Regions from separate parts of the Homo sapiens genome. Here region 1 is linked to region 2. The links come from fine-mapping of genetic effects on gene expression. Tissue or cell type: whole blood. Region 2 holds a variant in brackets; the other region holds the start of a gene. All regions are shown on one strand. Distances are from middle to middle.

Region 1 (8,084 bases), 180 kb before region 2:
TGCAGGCGTGAGCCACTGTGCCTGGCCTCCAGCTTTCTTTTGACTAGTGTTAGCATGGTATATCTTTTCTATCCTTTCAAGCTTTTTTTTTTTTTAGTAGATAATGTCTTTTTGCACATAACTTATTGTTGGATTTGCTTTATTTTTCCAACCTGCCAATCTGTCATTTACCAAGAGTATTTATTTTTGACATTCGTATTTAATGTGCTTAGTCATATAGTTTTGAGTCTGTCATCTTGCAATTTGTTTTTTGTTTCATCTGCCCTTTGTTCTCTCTTTACCTGCCTTCCTCTGGGTTGAGTATTTTATGTTTCTGTCTTACCTCCTTTGTTGGCTTACTAGGTATCTTTGCTGGGTTTTGAATGGTCCCTCTAGGGTTTAGGCAGCACTTGGCTCCGAATTGCAACAGTGGCCTCTTTTCCCTTGTTGTCCAGGTGAATGAGTGGCAGGATGACTGGCCGACCTTTTTCGCCCGGCACCGGCTCCAGGCGCAGCTGGACCTCATTGAGAAGGACTATGCTGACCGAGAGGCACGAGAACTCTGGTCCCGGCTACAGGTGGGCACGGCAGTGACTTCTCTGGGAAAGAGCTGGTCCTCTCATGATCCCGCCGCATTTGTGCGGGTTCATCTGTAAAACGGAGCTGGAGCAGGGAACACTGAGTCCTGGAGCACACATCAGGGAGGAAGGGGGGCAGGGGCGGGGGTTCCCCCAAAAGGGAGTCCGAAAGGAGTGAGGAGTGAAGACACACTTGGCTCCTCGTGCCCCTCTCCACTGCTAGGTCACCAGGTATTTAGCCTCAGACTTTCCTCATGTGAAACACAGGTGCTTGTAAATGGTGGTGTTTACCATGATTACTGTTCTTACTATCAGTAACACTTGTCCACTCCATCGTGTTCCTCTCCCATGGGAAGATGTGGGTACCAGATGATCCAGAATGACTGATTTCAAAACATAACTCTCGGCCGGGCACAGTGGTTCACGCCTGTAATCGCAGCATTTGGGAGGCCTAGGTGGGCAGATCACTTGAGGTCAGGAGTTTGAGACCAGCCTGGCCAACATGGTGAAACCCTGTCTGTACTAAAAATGCAAAAATTAACCGTGCATGGTGGTGCATGCCTGTAATCCCAGCTACTCAGGAGGCTGAGGCAGGAGAATCACTTGAACCCGGGAGGCGGAGGCTGCAGTGAGGGGAGATTGCACCATTGCACTCCAGCCTGGACGACAGAGTGAGATCCTGTATCAAAAAGAAAAAAAATCAAAATATAACTCTCAAAATGTTAAAAAAGAATGTGCATGTCAATCCAGAGTGAGTATACATCAAAGAGACTTGAACTCATTAATGAAGAAACTAGGCTGGGCACGGTGGCTCAAGCCTGTAATCCTAGCACTTTGGGAGGCCGAGGTGGATAGATTTTACCTGAGGTCAGGATTTCAAGACCAGACTGGCCAATATGGTGAAACCCCATCTCTACTAAAAATACAAAAATTAGCCGGGTGTAGTGGCGGGTGCCTGTAATCCCAGCTACTCAGTAGGCTGAGGCAGGAGAATCACTTGAATCCGGGAGGCGGAGGTTGCAGTGAGCCGAGATGGCGCCACTGCACTCCAGCCTGGGTGACAGAGCAAGATTCCCTCTCAAAGAAAAAAACAACAAAACCAAACAAAACCTGCAGACATATATGTGTAGCGAAATAAAAGTGGCCAGAGTTTGCTAAGGTAGCGCAACACTGGTTCCTATTCTGTGGGTCGATTAAAACTATAACCTCAGAGGTTCTCCACTGTGTGGGGATTCTAGACCTAAATTAGGAGGAAATCCTAAGTTAGACAAAGCTAGACTCCCCTGAAGTCAGGTGGCCCCTATTTCTGGGCTTGGCAGGCAGTGCTGGGGCTGGACACCGAAGCAGATCGCGAGTGGGCTTTGCCTTATTTCCAAGAACGAGGTGATGAGACCGGGGCTCCCAGAGGCCAGCGATAACTGCAGCCGTTGCTCTCGTAGGTGAAGATCCCGGATCTGTTTTGTGGCCTAGAGATTGTCCCCGCGTTGCTCCACGGGGATCTCTGGTCGGGAAACGTGGCTGAGGACGACGTGGGGCCCATTATTTACGACCCGGCTTCCTTCTATGGCCATTCCGAGTTTGAACTGGCAATCGCCTTGATGTTTGGGGGGTTCCCCAGATCCTTCTTCACCGCCTACCACCGGAAGATCCCCAAGGCTCCGGGCTTCGACCAGCGGCTGCTGCTCTACCAGCTGTTTAACTACCTGAACCACTGGAACCACTTCGGGCGGGAGTACAGGAGCCCTTCCTTGGGCACCATGCGAAGGCTGCTCAAGTAGCGGCCCCTGCCCTCCCTTCCCCTGTCCCCGTCCCCGTCTCCGTCTCCCCGTCCCTGTCCCCCCGTCCCCCGTCCCTGTGCCCCCGTCCCTGTCCCCCTGTTCCCGTCTCCCCGTCCCTCCGTCTCCATCCCCCCGTCCCCCCATCCTCCTGTCCCCGTCCCCCCGTCCCCGTCCCTCCATCCCTGTCCCCCGTCCCCCTGTCCCCCTGTCCACATACCAATCCCCCTGTCCCCGACCCCCCATCCCCGTCCCCCATCTCCGTCCCCGTCCCCCCTGCCCCGTCCCCGTCTCCGTTCCCCCGTCCCCATCCTCCATCCCCGTCTCCCATCGCCGTCCCCCCGTCCCCGTCCCCCGTCCCCGTCCCCCCTGTCCCTGTCCCCCTTCCCCCGACCCCTCCCAGATCCTGGGGACCAATAAAGCCCGCAGCGGGTCTCGGCTGGCGTCCTGCGCCTCGTTCCTCCGCTCGTGGGGCTGCTTTCAGGGCCAGACGCACGGCGAGCTGTGCACGGACGTTTTTGCGGCGATTCAGGGGAAACGCACGCGGACCCGGTAGCCAAGGCCAAAGTCGGCGCAGCGCCCACCGCGGCCTCCGGGCCCCGCTCCCGCTCCCGCTCTGGGGCGCGCCACCACTCGGCGCGGGGCCCGTGTGATCCGCGCGGGTCCCAGCGTGGCGCGAATAAGTGTCAGGGCGGTTGGCTCTGAGGGGTGGGTCCCGGGGCTCGCCTCGCGCCCCCGACTGCGTGCTCAGGCCCCGCCCCTCCCCGTCCACGCATGCTGAGGCTCCGCCCCGCTCCGCGGTCCCCCGGTCCCACCCGCCCCCGCCCCGCCCCCGCCCCGCCCCCCGGCGTGTTGTGGCTCCGCCCCGCTGTCTCCGGCCCCACCGCAAGCCCTGCCCCTCCCACCCACGCGTGCCCGGGCCCCGCCCCCGTTGCGCGCAGCCCCGCCCCCTATCGCGTGCTCAAGCCCCGCCCTGGCGGCCCCCGGCCCCATCCCGAAGCCCCGCCCCCCCGCACACCGCCTGCTCAGGCTCCGCCCCGCTGTCCTCCGGCGGCGGCCTCACCCCGCAGCCCGGCCCACCGCGTCTCAGGCCCCACCTCCTGTCCTGCCCCGCCCACCGCGTGCTCAGGCCCCGCTGAGCGGTCCCGGCTCCGCTCGCGCCCTGTGGGGTCCACGGCGCGCTCTTCCAGAGCCTTTGGGACCCGTGCCCGCTCGCGTCCTCAAGTGCACGCGCCGTCCCGCGCGCGGTATTTTGGCGGCCGACGCGTTCCGTAGCGAGGCCGGCGAGTGGGGTCGGAGGTCGCGGGGCGGGGCCAGCGTCGGTTGCCGCCTTAGCGGGCGCCTCCTTTTCATCCCTCATCCTTCATCCCTGGCTTTCGCGCTCTAGCGGAGTGGGATCTGCGAACACGTGAGGCGGGGGCGCGGTCCCCAGGCTGCCGAGATGGCCCTGAGCGACGAACCGGCCGCGGGCGGCCCCGAGGAGGAGGCGGAGGACGAGACACTGGCCTTTGGCGCGGCGCTGGAAGCGTTCGGCGAGAGCGCGGAGACCCGGGCGCTGCTGGGCCGCCTGCGGGAGGTGCACGGCGGCGGCGCGGAGCGCGAGGTGGCCCTGGAGCGGTTCCGCGGTGCGTGGGCGGCGCCGCGTGCCCGCTTCCTCCCCCGGCCCGGGTTCGGCGCGCTGAGTGCACTTTACCGGGCGGGGACCGCAGCCCGGCGGCGCCGGCCGCTCTGCGAGGGCTGCCGGTGCGCGGTCCCGCGGGCCGTGGTGGGGCGCGGCCTTCCTAGGCGGGAGAGGGCCACCCCGGCGCGGCGTTAGGTGCACGGGGCAGACGCGCGCCTCCCTTGGGGGGACCGTGGCCCGCGGAGCGCCTGCTCTCGCACGGGGTGAAGCCTCTGCGGCCTCCCCGGGAGGCGGGGTGCAGAAGCCCTCCGTCCCCCGTCTCCGTCACTGGAGGAGGTCCCTGGGCTGGGGAGACTCGGGCCAGACCCCTCCGGACAGCTGGTCAGCCCTGCAGTGTGGACTCCCAGGCTTGCCTCCACCGAGCGCGGTTTCTGTGAATGTTGTGTGGACAGGGAGATAGGGAATGAGAGAGGGGGACGCAGGGAACAAACCTGCTGCAAACAAAGCGCGCCTCGGGTGGGGAGGGCAGCAGCCTGTCCGTTCCGTGGACGCCGTGGACAGAGCGGGCTGGCCGGGTCCGTGCCTCTGCAGGCGGGGTGGGGTGTAGGTACCCCTGTGGAGGCCATTCGATGAGTCTAAATTCTCCGAGTTCAGACCCACCTTTACCGCTGTCTATAATGGGTTATTTCCAAACAAGTCCTTAGGAGCTCATAGCTAAGTAGTTACATGGGGTTTTGTAATTCAGTAAAATCATCTTTGTAGACCCTTTGAGTAAGAAGAACTTTTGCATTATTTGGCCTTCCTCATTTTAGAATGACAGCGCTTTGATTTTAGGAGTCAGGCAGGGTGGGGGGCCTTGTGGGAGGAGTGCGGGTTCGGCGTCAGATCCTCCTGCCTGTGAATTCTGGCCCTGTCGCTTGGACCTGATACTTGATTGCCTGTTTCTTCGGGTGTAAGCTGGGGCGGATAACGATGCCTCTCGTGCAGAACTGTTCTGAGGGTGAGGGACCCTCATCCAGGGACCAGTGAAGCCAGATTTTTTGTTCCTGGTGTAACAGCCCAATGGCTTCTTCCTTTTTTTTTTTTTTTTTTTTTTGATACGAAGTCTTGCTCTGTTGCCCAGGCTGGAGTGCAGTGCAGTGGTGCGATCTTGGCTCACTGCAACCTCAACCTCTCAGGTTCAAGCTATTCTCCTGTCTTAGCCTCCCGAGTAGCTGGGGCTACAGGCGCGCGCCACCACGCCCGGCTAATTTTGTATTTTTAGTAGAGGGGGTTTCACCATGTTGGTCAGGCTGGTCTCAAACTCCTGACCTCAAGTGGTCGCCCGACTCAGCCTCCCAAAGTGTTGAGATTACAGGTGTGAGCCACTGCGCTCGGCCCCAGTGGGTTCTTTCTGCGGGCTGCCCAGATAGAGTTGATTTGTCAGGGCAGGGGAGTTGCCATGGAGAAGATTTAGTTCACGCAGAGCCGGTTGAAAGGGAGACTAGACTAGAGGTTTTTTTTTTTTTTTTTGAGGCGGAGTCTCACTTTGTCCCCCAGGGTGGAGTGCAGTGATGAGATCTCAGCTCACTGCAACCTCCACAACCTCCACCTCCCAGGTTCAAGTGATTCTCCTGCCTCAGCCTCCCGAGTAGCTGGGACTACAGGTGCGCGCCACCACGCCCACCTAATTTTTCGTATTATTAGTAGTGACGGGTTTCATCGTGTTAGCCAGGATGGTCTCGATCTCCTGACCTCGTGATCCACCCGCCTCAGCCTCCCAAAGTGAGCCACCACGCCCGGCTGGAGTTTTATTATTACTCAGATCAGTCTCCCTGAGAATTTGAGGGCCAGGGTTTTTTAGAGGTAATCTGGGGGAAAGGGTGGGGGTGGCTGATTGGTTAGGGGTATACAATCATAGGGGAGTCGGAAATGATCCTCCGTGATGTGCTGAATCGCGTCTGCGTGGGGCCCCAGGAGCAGTGGGCGGGTCCAGGTGGAGCTATCATGGGTCCGTGGATCCTAGTGTAGGTGTCAGACATGGAAACAATCTGAAAAGATATCTTTAAAGGCCAGTCTCAGGTTCTGCAATAGTGACATGGTCTGCAGGAGTAACTGGGGAACTCGCATGTCTTGTGATCTCAAGAATAATGGCTGGCAATTAGGTTACGCCTTAGCGGAATTCAGGCTCCTCTCCTCCTCCTAGCCTGGTGGCCTCTCATTAACTTTACAAAGGCAGTTGAGTTTTGGGGAAGGGCTCTTAGCATTTAAACTATAAATTAAATGTCTCCCAGAGGTAGCTTGGCAGCTTGAAGACTAAAGGCATGAGGGGGTTGCCTGGATCAGATCTGCCCCATTGCCATAATTTCCTCACAGATCACTTTTGCAAAGGCAGTTTTGCTGGGAAGCAGTGGGTGTGTTCAGATGTGGAGGTGGGAGCTGCCGGATTGGACAGAAGCAGTTTCAGCTGCTGAGAGGAGGAGAAAGCGGTGGTTCAGGGTCTGGGAGGTTGTGAAGAGCTGGCAGCTGTGTGGAAGGGAGCAGTGCCTGGATATGTCAACCAAAAAGTATCTGAGACGAGTCTCAATCAGTTTAGAAGGTTAAGGGTGTGCCCGTGAGGCAGCCTCAGGAGGTCACATGTCCCCAAGGAAGTCGGGCTACAGCTTAGTTTTACACGTTTTAGGGAGACGTGAGACATCAATCAATACCTGTAAGATGTACATTGGTCTCGTCAGGGAAGGCGGGACATCTTGGGTGGGAGGGCGTCCAGGGCATTGGTGGATTCAAATATTTCACGATTGGTGATTGGTTGAAAGAGTTTATCTGAAGACCTGGAATCCATAGAAGGGATTGTCTAGGTTAAGATAAATTGTGGAGACCAAGGTTTTTCTTATGCAGATGAAGGTTCCAGTTAGCTGGTTTCAGAGAGAATAGATTGTAAATGCTTTTCATCAGACTAAAAAGGTACCAGACTTAGTTAATTTTCTCTTGGATCAGGGAAAAGACCTAGAAAAGGAAGGGATTCTCTACAGAATGTAGCTTTTCCCAGCAAGAGACAACTTAGCAGAACCATTTCAAAATATGTCAAATATATTTTAGGGAAAAATATTTTGATTTCTTTCAGGGCCTGCTGTCTGTCATGTGATGCTGTACTAGAGTCAGGCTGGAATTTGGTGTCTTATTGCTACTTAAGATCGGTTTTAATGCTAATACTGATCAGCTGTGCCTGAATTCCAACGAGAGGAGGGTATAATGAGGCCTATGTGGACCACTCCCCACAATCCCTTAATATCATGAGGCCTGAACTAGTTTTTCAGGTTAAGTTTGGAATGCCCTTGGCCAAGAGGAGGGGTCTGTTAGATGGCTAGGGGGCTTAGAATTTTGTTTTTAGTTTACAGGCATGTTTGGCAGGGGAGTGTGAGAGGAGTGCCAGGGATGTGTGTCTCACAAGGACAGAGTTGAGCTTGGCCCTTAACGGCTGGCAGAGGCAGGAGAGAGTGAAGGAAGGAAGAGGCGAGGAGGAGACTCTGTTAGGAAGAGTATCGAGGCAGTGGGAAAAGAGGAACAGTGTGCCAAGCAAGTAAACTGCACGAGGCTGGGCCACAGTGGCCCTCAAAAGGCTAGAGGGAGGTGGGGCATTCCCTCCAGGTGGCCTGTGTGGCCTCCTTTAGTGAGAGGGGAGGTGTGCTCTTGAGAGCTGGGGAAGAGGTGGAGCTGCCCTGTGGAAGCTAGCAAGGGAAAATGGGGTTTCTGAGGCTCATGGGTATGTTTGGCCTAGTGATAATTAATTTTCATGTTATATTTGTTTTTAGTAATAATGGACAAATACCAGGAGCAGCCTCATCTGTTGGACCCGCACCTTGGTAAGAATAGAAGCTGCTGATTTTGATCATTCAGTTACAGATGACCACGGAGGCCTTGGTGTGTGGTGCTGGCACATGCATGTGCTTTGCCAGGATCAAATGCCAAGAAGTGTCCCTGTCTTGCTTGCCTGGCTGGTTGGTTTTAGCCGACCTGTGATAGTGGCTTGAGTTCCAGATGTCACTCTAGGCTGGGGGGAGATGTGTCTGAGCTACTTAATTCCTTTCTGCTAAGGAAACAACATCTGCTCCTCATGTGTTTTTTTTGTTTTTTTTTCTTTTTTTTGAGACG
Region 2 (8,091 bases):
AAAGGGGGCTTGTCGCTTTCCACTGGGATCCTGCTGACTCTCAGCCATTCAGGGAGTTGGGCGTCCTTGTTGCTGGTGTCCAGGGTCTCACAGCTCCTTCTCCCCTCAGGGTGTCCGTGCCGCTGCTGAAGACGCTGGACCACGTGCTCACCCACGGCTGCTTCGACATCTTCACCACGGAGGAGGAGTGAGGCTCTGCTTTTCATGACTTCCTTTCCGATTAAGCCTAAGTAGCTCATGTATTAAAGAAAAAGTCATCAGACACAGAGATCAGAATTCCAGGAAATGATCTTCCAGTGCGTTCTGGGTCAGTTATGGTGACTGTAAATACCGTCATCACAGCTGGCCCTCAAAATAACGCAATAATAACATATTTACATAATGACATATTATGACTGTAAGTGCAGTCAGCCCCATCTGGGGCTGAGGCGGGGGCCCTGCTGTGCACTCTCCCCCCAGCTATCCCACCGGGCCAGGGGTGGGCCTCAGGGTTGTGCTGGGAGCCGCAGGGCCTGAAGGGGCCTCGGCTGTACGGGGATGAGACTCGCAGGGGAGAGGGCAGAGGCCGGTGACCTGGCGAGGACTTGCCCAGGAGATTGGAGCTCCTTGCTTCTGCGCCACGCGGATGCCCCAGGCTGGTCTCAGCTGGGTTGTTGGCTCTGAGTGGTCATCTCGTTGCTGCCATATTTTCTTGCTTCATTGAATTTCACCGTGTTGGGCCAGTCTTTTTTTTTTTTTTTTTTTGAGACAGGGTCTAGCTCTGTTTCCCAGGCTGGAGTGCAGTGGCACAATCACAGCTCACTGCAGCCTCTACCTCAGCCTCCCAAGTATCTGGGACTACAGGCATGCGCTGTAGTCTAATGTACGGCTAATGTTTGTATTTTTAGTAGAGACAGGATTTCACTATGTTTCCCAGGCTGGTCTTGAACTCCTGGCCCCAAGTGCCTGCCTTGGCCTCCTAAAGTGCTAGGATTACAGGTGTGAGCCACTGCGTCTGGCCTGGATATATTTGTATCTGGGGCACGTTGGGTCATCCGGAGACAGCGTGGTCTGTTTTTGGGGGCACTGCTTTTTTTTTGTTTGTTTTGAGATGGAGTCTTGCTCTGTTGCCCAGGGTGTAGTGCAGTGGCTCGATTTCAGCTCACCGCAACCCCGTCCCGGGTTCAAGCAGTTCTCTCGCAGACTTCTGAGTAGCTGAGATTACAGCTGTGCACCATCACACCTGGCTGATTGTTTGTATTGTTAGTAGATACAGGGTTTCACCACATTGGTCAGGCTGGTCTCGAACTCCTGACCTCAAGTGACCTGCCCACCTCGGCCTCCCAAAGTGCTGGGATTACAGGCGTGAGCCACTGAGCCTGGCTTGGGCGCTACTCTTAAGCTGTCAGGTGGACCCAGAGCTGTGCTGGTCTCCAGGGTTTTCTGCCCCTTTAAGGTCTCTGCTCCCTGGCGCTTCCCTTCCCACCGCTGCTGGGGCAGTGCCGGGGCTTCTGGCCATCTTTTGGGTGGTTCGTCCCCAGCCTTGGACAGCGTCCTCGTACTCAGGTACTGGCTGACCCAGGCCCAGGTTAGTCCTCAGCGGCCCCCAGGAAGCCCCCTCTGGTGCTCAGAACCTGAGCGAGCTCTGCAGACTTGGAATTTCCCGCTTCTCACCACGGGCTTCCCGCTGGAGTCTGCCACCTGCTGGACTTGGCTCTGCCTTAACCTTCGGGCGGGAGGCAGATCTGGTCTCTGTTGCTCCATCTTTGCTGGACGCTGCACATGTTTTTAAATCTAACAGCATTGAAGGGTTTCCCCTTTTAATTTCTTAATGGGGCATCACTGACTGACCTTCTTACACCTGCTGTTGGAACAGCCTCCATGTTCACAGGTGCACCCAGCTCGGTTGTGGCGTATTATCCTTTAATACAATGCTAAATACTCCATTTAAATTTTTTTTTTGAGATGGAGTTTTGCTGTTGTTGCCCAGACTGGAGTGAATTGGTGCGATCTCAGCTCACTGCAACCTCTGCCTCCTGGGTTCAAGTGATTCTCCTGCCTCAGCCTCCCTAGTAGCTGGGATTACAGGCATGTGCTACCATGCCCAGGTAATTTTGTATTTTTAGTAGAGATGGGGTTTCACCATGTTGGTCAGGCTGGTCTCGAACTCCCGACCTGAGGTGATCTGCCCACTTCTGCCTCCCAAAGTGCTGGGATTATAGGCGTGAGCCACCGTACCTGGCCTAAAATATTGACATATATTTTTCTGGCTTAAAAATTTCAAAATAAGCCTGGGCGCCATGGCTCACGCCTGTAATCCCAGCACTTTGGGAGGCCAAGGCGAGTGGATCACTTGAGCTCCGGAGTTTGAGACCAGCCTGGCCAACTTGGTGAAACCCCATCTCTACAAAAAATACAAAAACATTAGCCGGGTGTGGTGGTGCCTGTACGGCTTGGGCCTGGGAGGCGAAGGTTGCCGTGAGCTGAGATTGAGCCACTGTGCTCCAGCCTGGGCAACACAGCCAGACTCTGTTTCAAAAAAAAAATTTTTTTTCCAAGATAGGATGGTAGAGAAAATACCTCCTGCCATGTCCTGCTATGAATACAGCTTTGTATTTCTCTCTACAGTTTTGTCAGTTTTGGCTTTTCAGATTTTGAAGCGTGTTTGTGGGCTGAATCTTGCCCTTATCACCCATTTCTAGGATGCTTTTTGCTCCACTCATTCTTTGTCTTGCTTCACTTGACTTTGAACTGTATACTTTTTTCCATCGTTTTACTTTCAGTATCTTCATACATGTATGTTTTTGTACGCCTCTCTTAGAACAGTGTATGGTTTTGTAAAAATTCAGCCTGTAGCTTTTACCTGCCTCCTTCATGACCTTTATAATCCCCTTGGTTCTCAGCCTGCCACTCACAGGACTTTTCCCTGTGCTGCGTTCCCAGTGCCCCCTCCCCGCCCCCACCTGTGCTTTTTGTTGGATTAGTAGAATTGCTTTTGTCATTCCATTGTTTTCATATATTTGTTTGGGACATTTTACTTTTTTCTGTTAACGCTTACCCTAGAAATTAGAAATGACACCACGTATTCTTAGCGAAGTCCAGTTTTCAGCATTTTGTCCTTATTGGACAATAGCAAGGATATTAGAACGTGTTGGTTCCGCGTGCTTCCGTCTTGAGTTATGTGCTGCTATTGTCGGATATTTTGTCTTAGATGTACGTACTTTCCTGTTCATTGTGGTATGTGTAATTTGCGTTACTTTGAATTTTCCACGTTTTTACTTTCTTTGTCTCTCATCACTTACTGCTTTTGGGACCCCCCCCATCGGGGTTCACATTCCCTCTCCCTAGAGCACACTCCCTTGGATTTCCTCGAGTGGGGTCTGCTGCGGTGAAGCTTTCCCATTTTATGTGCAGATTATTTTCAGAGGGTATATAGAATTCAGGCAGCTGTTTCGTTGTAGCACATTAAAAATATTTTCCCACTTCCTCCTTGCTTCTGTTGTTGCTTTTGAGTGTTACCTCTGAGTCTGCCTGTGCTCCCTGGAAACGGCCCGGGTTTCCCACCCCCTGCCCAGGTTTGCTCCTTCCCTGGTTTTTCTGTCATTATCACGCTCACGTGTTTCCCTCGGTCACCCCCTCTGCAATTTTCACACGTCTTTTCCCTCTCTCTTTGCTTCATTACCTTTGGCCCGCCTGCCAGCTGCTGATTCTCTCTGAAGATGTCTCTAAATGACTTTTAACTGTGATTTGTGGAATTCTTATTGTGGAGTTTTGCGTCTTTTCAGGTGTAGGTTTTTTGTCTCGCGTGTTTCCACGTCTGCTTGTAGCGCTTTCCGCTTCGCCGTTCCCTGCGGCCCTTCCTTCCGTGCCCGGTGTTCATCCTCTTGAATGCTCTTTTCCTGCCTGTTTGGCTGGGTGTGTCTGAGTTGCAACCTGAGCGGGTTTCTTTGTCTTCTTACTTGTCTGGTATTGTGTTCTCTCGGGACGTTGCGTTTGAGGGGTCGCACCTCAGAGCAAGCCGAGGTCTGGGCTAAGCCTGTGCTTTGGCAGGCAGGACCTTAGTTTGCCTTTTCTGGGCACCTGAGGAGAGGGTAGCAGCAGCCTGGGGTCTCCTTGACTCACGGTCAGCAGTGAGGGTTTCCTGGCCTGTTGGGTGGCTGGAGCTTGGCTGCATTCCCCACTGAGAGAGGGAGGTGCGCACCTTCTCCTCCCTGGAGTGGCCTTCCAGGTGCCCTCT[C/G]AGAGCTGCTCATCAGGGCTGTGCCTTTGTCAGCACCAAGCCTCAGCCCTTGTCCCTGCTGCCACTGAAGGCTCAAAACAACACTGCACAGCCTTGTGTGTCCTCTGTGTGTCGGCAGTTTCCCCCGGCTCTGCAGCAGCCCAGGCCAGGTAGCCTCTGGAGGGAGTGGTGGAGGAGCACGGGCATCCTGGCCGCCGCTGTGTTGGGGACAGACCCTGGGGCCTGGAAAGGGAGGTGGGGCCCCGTGGGGGCTGCTGCACCACAGGCAAGAGAGCAAGAGACAGCAGAGGCCGGCCAGGTGGTGGCACAGCCGCTAGGGACCAGGCCGGCCTGTGGAGGTATTGGGATGGGGACCAGCGGACTTGCTGGCAGAGGGGCCTCAGGGCTGCAGGCTTCTTGGACTGAGCCACTGGGAGGACGGAGTTGACCTTCTTTGAGACAGAAAAAGTGTGCATCCCGGGGCTGCCTGTGAAAGCTCATCTCTAAAGTGTGTGTTGTTCTTCCAGCCACCCCTTTGCTGTGAAGTTGCTTGCGCTCTGTAAGAAAGAAATCAAGAATTCAAAAGATATCCAGAAGCTCCTGTCAGGCATCGCAGTGTGAGTTTCAAGTGCTGCTGGCCTTAGACGGAATGGCAGGGCGCAGCCTCCCTTGGCTGAGGGCAGGAGTCCACGGCTCCAGGCGGGAGAGGAGCAGTTAGTGTTACTCCTCAAGCTAACCTAAGATCGTGCATTCCAATGTTCAAAGCAGTCGCAATGGGAGGTGAGGCAGCCCAGGTGCTGGTGGAGGGAGTTCCCGCGGGAACAGGCGAGCTCTGCCTCTGCTGCCCTCGCGCTCTGCCCTGGCGGGAGGGGAGGCTCCGGAAAGGAGCTGCGTGGTCAGGGGCTGCCTCCCCGATTCTCCTGTGTGCCCTGGGGGTCGCTGTTGAGTGCCTTGCTCTGCGGCGCTCAGGTGGACACTGGGCAGGTGCGCCAGCCAGCGATAGGCACCTTGGCTGCTCTGTGGCTCCTTGAGGTGGGGGTCCTCATGGCAGGGCGAGCGGCCCTGCAGGAGATCCTCTGTGAGGCGTCCTCACTTCCCACAGTGACTTTCCAAGTGCGACACTCGTGTGTGTAGGCACAGTGCAGATGTACGCACACACACACCTCCGGCTTGGGGCCCCAGGCCCGCACTGTGCTCACGGATCTGCTCTGCCCAGGTCTCTGCATGGGCCTTTGGGTCCGGGGTTTGCTGGGGTTGGCCTGCGCGGGGTGGGGCTCACCTGGAGCCATGTGCTGCTCCCGGCAGGTTCTGCGAGATGGTGCAGTTCCCCGGCGACGTGAGGAGGCAGGCCCTCCTGCAGCTGTGTCTGCTCCTCTGCCACCGTTTCCCGCTGGTGAGTGCCTGCCCCTGCTCACGTGTGTTTGCCGTGTGGACACAAGCCCCTCAGTGACAAGAAGGCCTTCGCTGGCACTGTTGTGTTGGTGTGCTTTCCAGCCGAGCCCCTCTCGTTAACGCGCCTGGGTGACGACGCGTCACAGGCACGCGGCTGCCAAGGGGCTCTGGACGCCACTGTTCTGGCTTTAAGGACGGGCTGTCCGGCTGGCGTTTCTATGGACATACATTGAGGGGTGACCTGGCGGTGGGATCTGGCTCAGGAGCTTCCAGAAGGACCCAGGCTGAAGTGGTTCAGCCACACCTAGGGGCAGTGCCCTTCATCCCCAGCACTCCCCGGCTATTAGATTTCTAGGATTTCTTTTCTCCTGGCTGCAAAAAAAACCTCAGATGATACAAAGGTGACATTTTCCTAAAAGGCAAAAGTAACTTCATGTTGTATGGTGGTTCTCGAAGTGGGGTGCCGGACCCTCAGGCTTGGCACCTCTGGGGCTTCAGCAGTGCAGCTCTTGGGCCCTGTGCTGCCGACTCAGCACCTCCAGGGTGGGCCCGGGGCTCAGACCACCAGCGCAGTGAGACATGATGACCAGGGCACCACTCAAAAAGAGAGCAGGCGAGATTGCTTCCCTGATGAAAAGAGAGCAGGCGAGATTGCTTCCCTGATGAAAAGAGAGCAGGCGAGATTGCTTCCCTGGTGAAAAGAGAGCAGGTGAGATTGCTTCTCTGGTGAGGGAGCAGGTTGGTTAATAGATAGCGGGCGAGATTGCTTCTCTGGTGAGGTAGCAGGTTGGTTAATAGAGAGCAGGTGAGAGTGCTTCTCTGATGAAAAGAGAGCAGGCGAGATTGCTTCTCTGGTGAGGGAGCAGGTTGGTTAATAGCAGGCGAGATTGCTTCTCTGGTGAGGGAGCAGGTTAGTTAATAGAGAGCAGGCGAGATTGCTTCTCTGGTGAGGGAGCAGGTTGGTTAATAAAGCATTTAAACAAGAATGATGTCATCTTCACTGCTGGGATCCTGCAGCTAGCTGTGTGTCTGTGGAGGGAGGAGGTGGTTAATGGGCCTGGAAGGCACCTCCTCTTGGTTGCAGCCCTGCTGTGGCTGGGATGGGATGCAGGGTCAGCGTCCTCCTCCTGACGCCTTCCACTGACGGGGCTCCCTGGCCTGGGTCCTGTCGTCTCTCCGGGGTGGGGCGGTGGCGCTTCCCTCCGGCAAATGCACTGCATCCCTGTCCCAGATCCGGAAGACCACGGCCAGCCAGGTGTACGAGACATTGCTCACCTACAGTGACGTCGTGGGCGCGGATGTGCTGGACGAGGTGGTGACTGTGCTCAGTGACACTGCGTGGTGAGTGAAGGCCCTTCCTGCACGGCCACCTGGGCCTGGCACCGCCCCTCTTCCTGTCCCCACCGTGTCTACTCGTCTCTCCCAAAACCCTCTGATAGGAGGAGGAAAGAGGGTTCCCAGGTCTCCACATCCTCTGCTTAGGTTTTACAAGGCAGCCGTGCTGCTGTAGCCGAAACCTCTTCTCAACCGCCCTGTCCCCAAACAGTGTCAGGTGTCAGGAACACAGCAAAGCCATCCATCCCACCAGGGGAGCGGGCACCTGTACCACAAGGCTGTGTCTGGTGGCCTGTGGAGCAGAGGGCACTGAAGGCCTGGCAGGTGCTGCTGCCCCAGACCTCTCTAAAGTTCTCTTGGAATAGGCCGTGTGAGCACCTGTTGGAAATCAAGAGGCACAGGCGGAAATAAGAAAAGCTCTCCCCACGCCTCTGCTCTGATGTCCACCCCCTTCCTCAGGGCCATGAGGCCCTCAGGAGGCCATAGTGCCACTCTCCACGTTTACTTTGGCAGGCACAGTTTCTGCAACATGGGCTGGCTTCTTTACCATGGGTGGAGTAGAATGGCGGTTTTGAAAGATGTGTGTATTGAGTTGGGGGTGGGAGGGTCTGAATGAGAGCAGAGTGGGGAAAGTGCAGGCTCAGGTGTCCTGGGCCAACCGGTATGTTCCTGGGAACAGCAGTGATGGTGTCTTACACATATGGGCATGGGCACCCATGCTGGCTCACACACATGCTCACTTGCACGCGCGCACACACACACACACACACACACACTTCTAAAAGGGGAGCAGTCTCGTCACCCCGTGTTGGAGATCAGGACTGAAGCAACCAGAGGCTGTGTGGGTGTCCACATGGCATACCCGGGGTGGTGGAGTCCCAGGTGTCCTGCCTGTGGATGCTGCTCTGTTTTGAGTGCCGACTGTGAGGGCCTCCGTGCTGATCCCGGTGCGTTGCTACAGGTCTGTGGGGTCCACGCCCCTTGTTGAATCCAGCAAGGACGTAGGTGACGTTCCCTAGGTGTCTCCTCGGAACAGTGACCTTCCAACAGGGCTGGGTTCCCATAGAGCTCACGCACCAGGCAGCCGCTGTGGCCTCGGAGGACAGAGGTGGCCTCTCCAGGGCTTCCGCGAGGTTTTCTGGTTTGGGGAGGAGTGTGTGTCTGCTCCT

The links. PIP is the estimated chance that this variant, and not a neighbour inherited with it, causes the effect.
Region 1: TBCD starts here. The variant in region 2 is fine-mapped to the expression of TBCD in whole blood (INTERVAL, PIP above 0.99).

Annotation. Positions count from the first base shown.
Region 1 is chr17:82,748,421-82,756,504 of GRCh38, forward strand. TBCD (tubulin folding cofactor D) reads left to right here and starts at 3,645. Exons shown (of 39, transcript NM_005993.5): 1 at 3,645-3,957; 2 at 7,745-7,795. The coding sequence starts at 3,774. It overlaps FN3K (fructosamine 3 kinase), which reads left to right. Exons shown (of 6, transcript NM_022158.4): 5 at 435-557; 6 at 1,997-2,776. The coding sequence ends at 2,335. RefSeq lists silencers at 2,837-3,196, 3,887-4,206 and an enhancer at 6,553-6,847.
Region 2 is chr17:82,932,549-82,940,639 of GRCh38, forward strand. It overlaps TBCD (tubulin folding cofactor D), which reads left to right. Exons shown (of 39, transcript NM_005993.5): 34 at 110-187; 35 at 4,723-4,812; 36 at 5,501-5,588; 37 at 6,819-6,928. Among named protein-coding and RNA genes, the nearest start is that of ZNF750, 97 kb to the left of the region's middle. The variant C/G (reference allele first, on the strand shown) is at 4,217.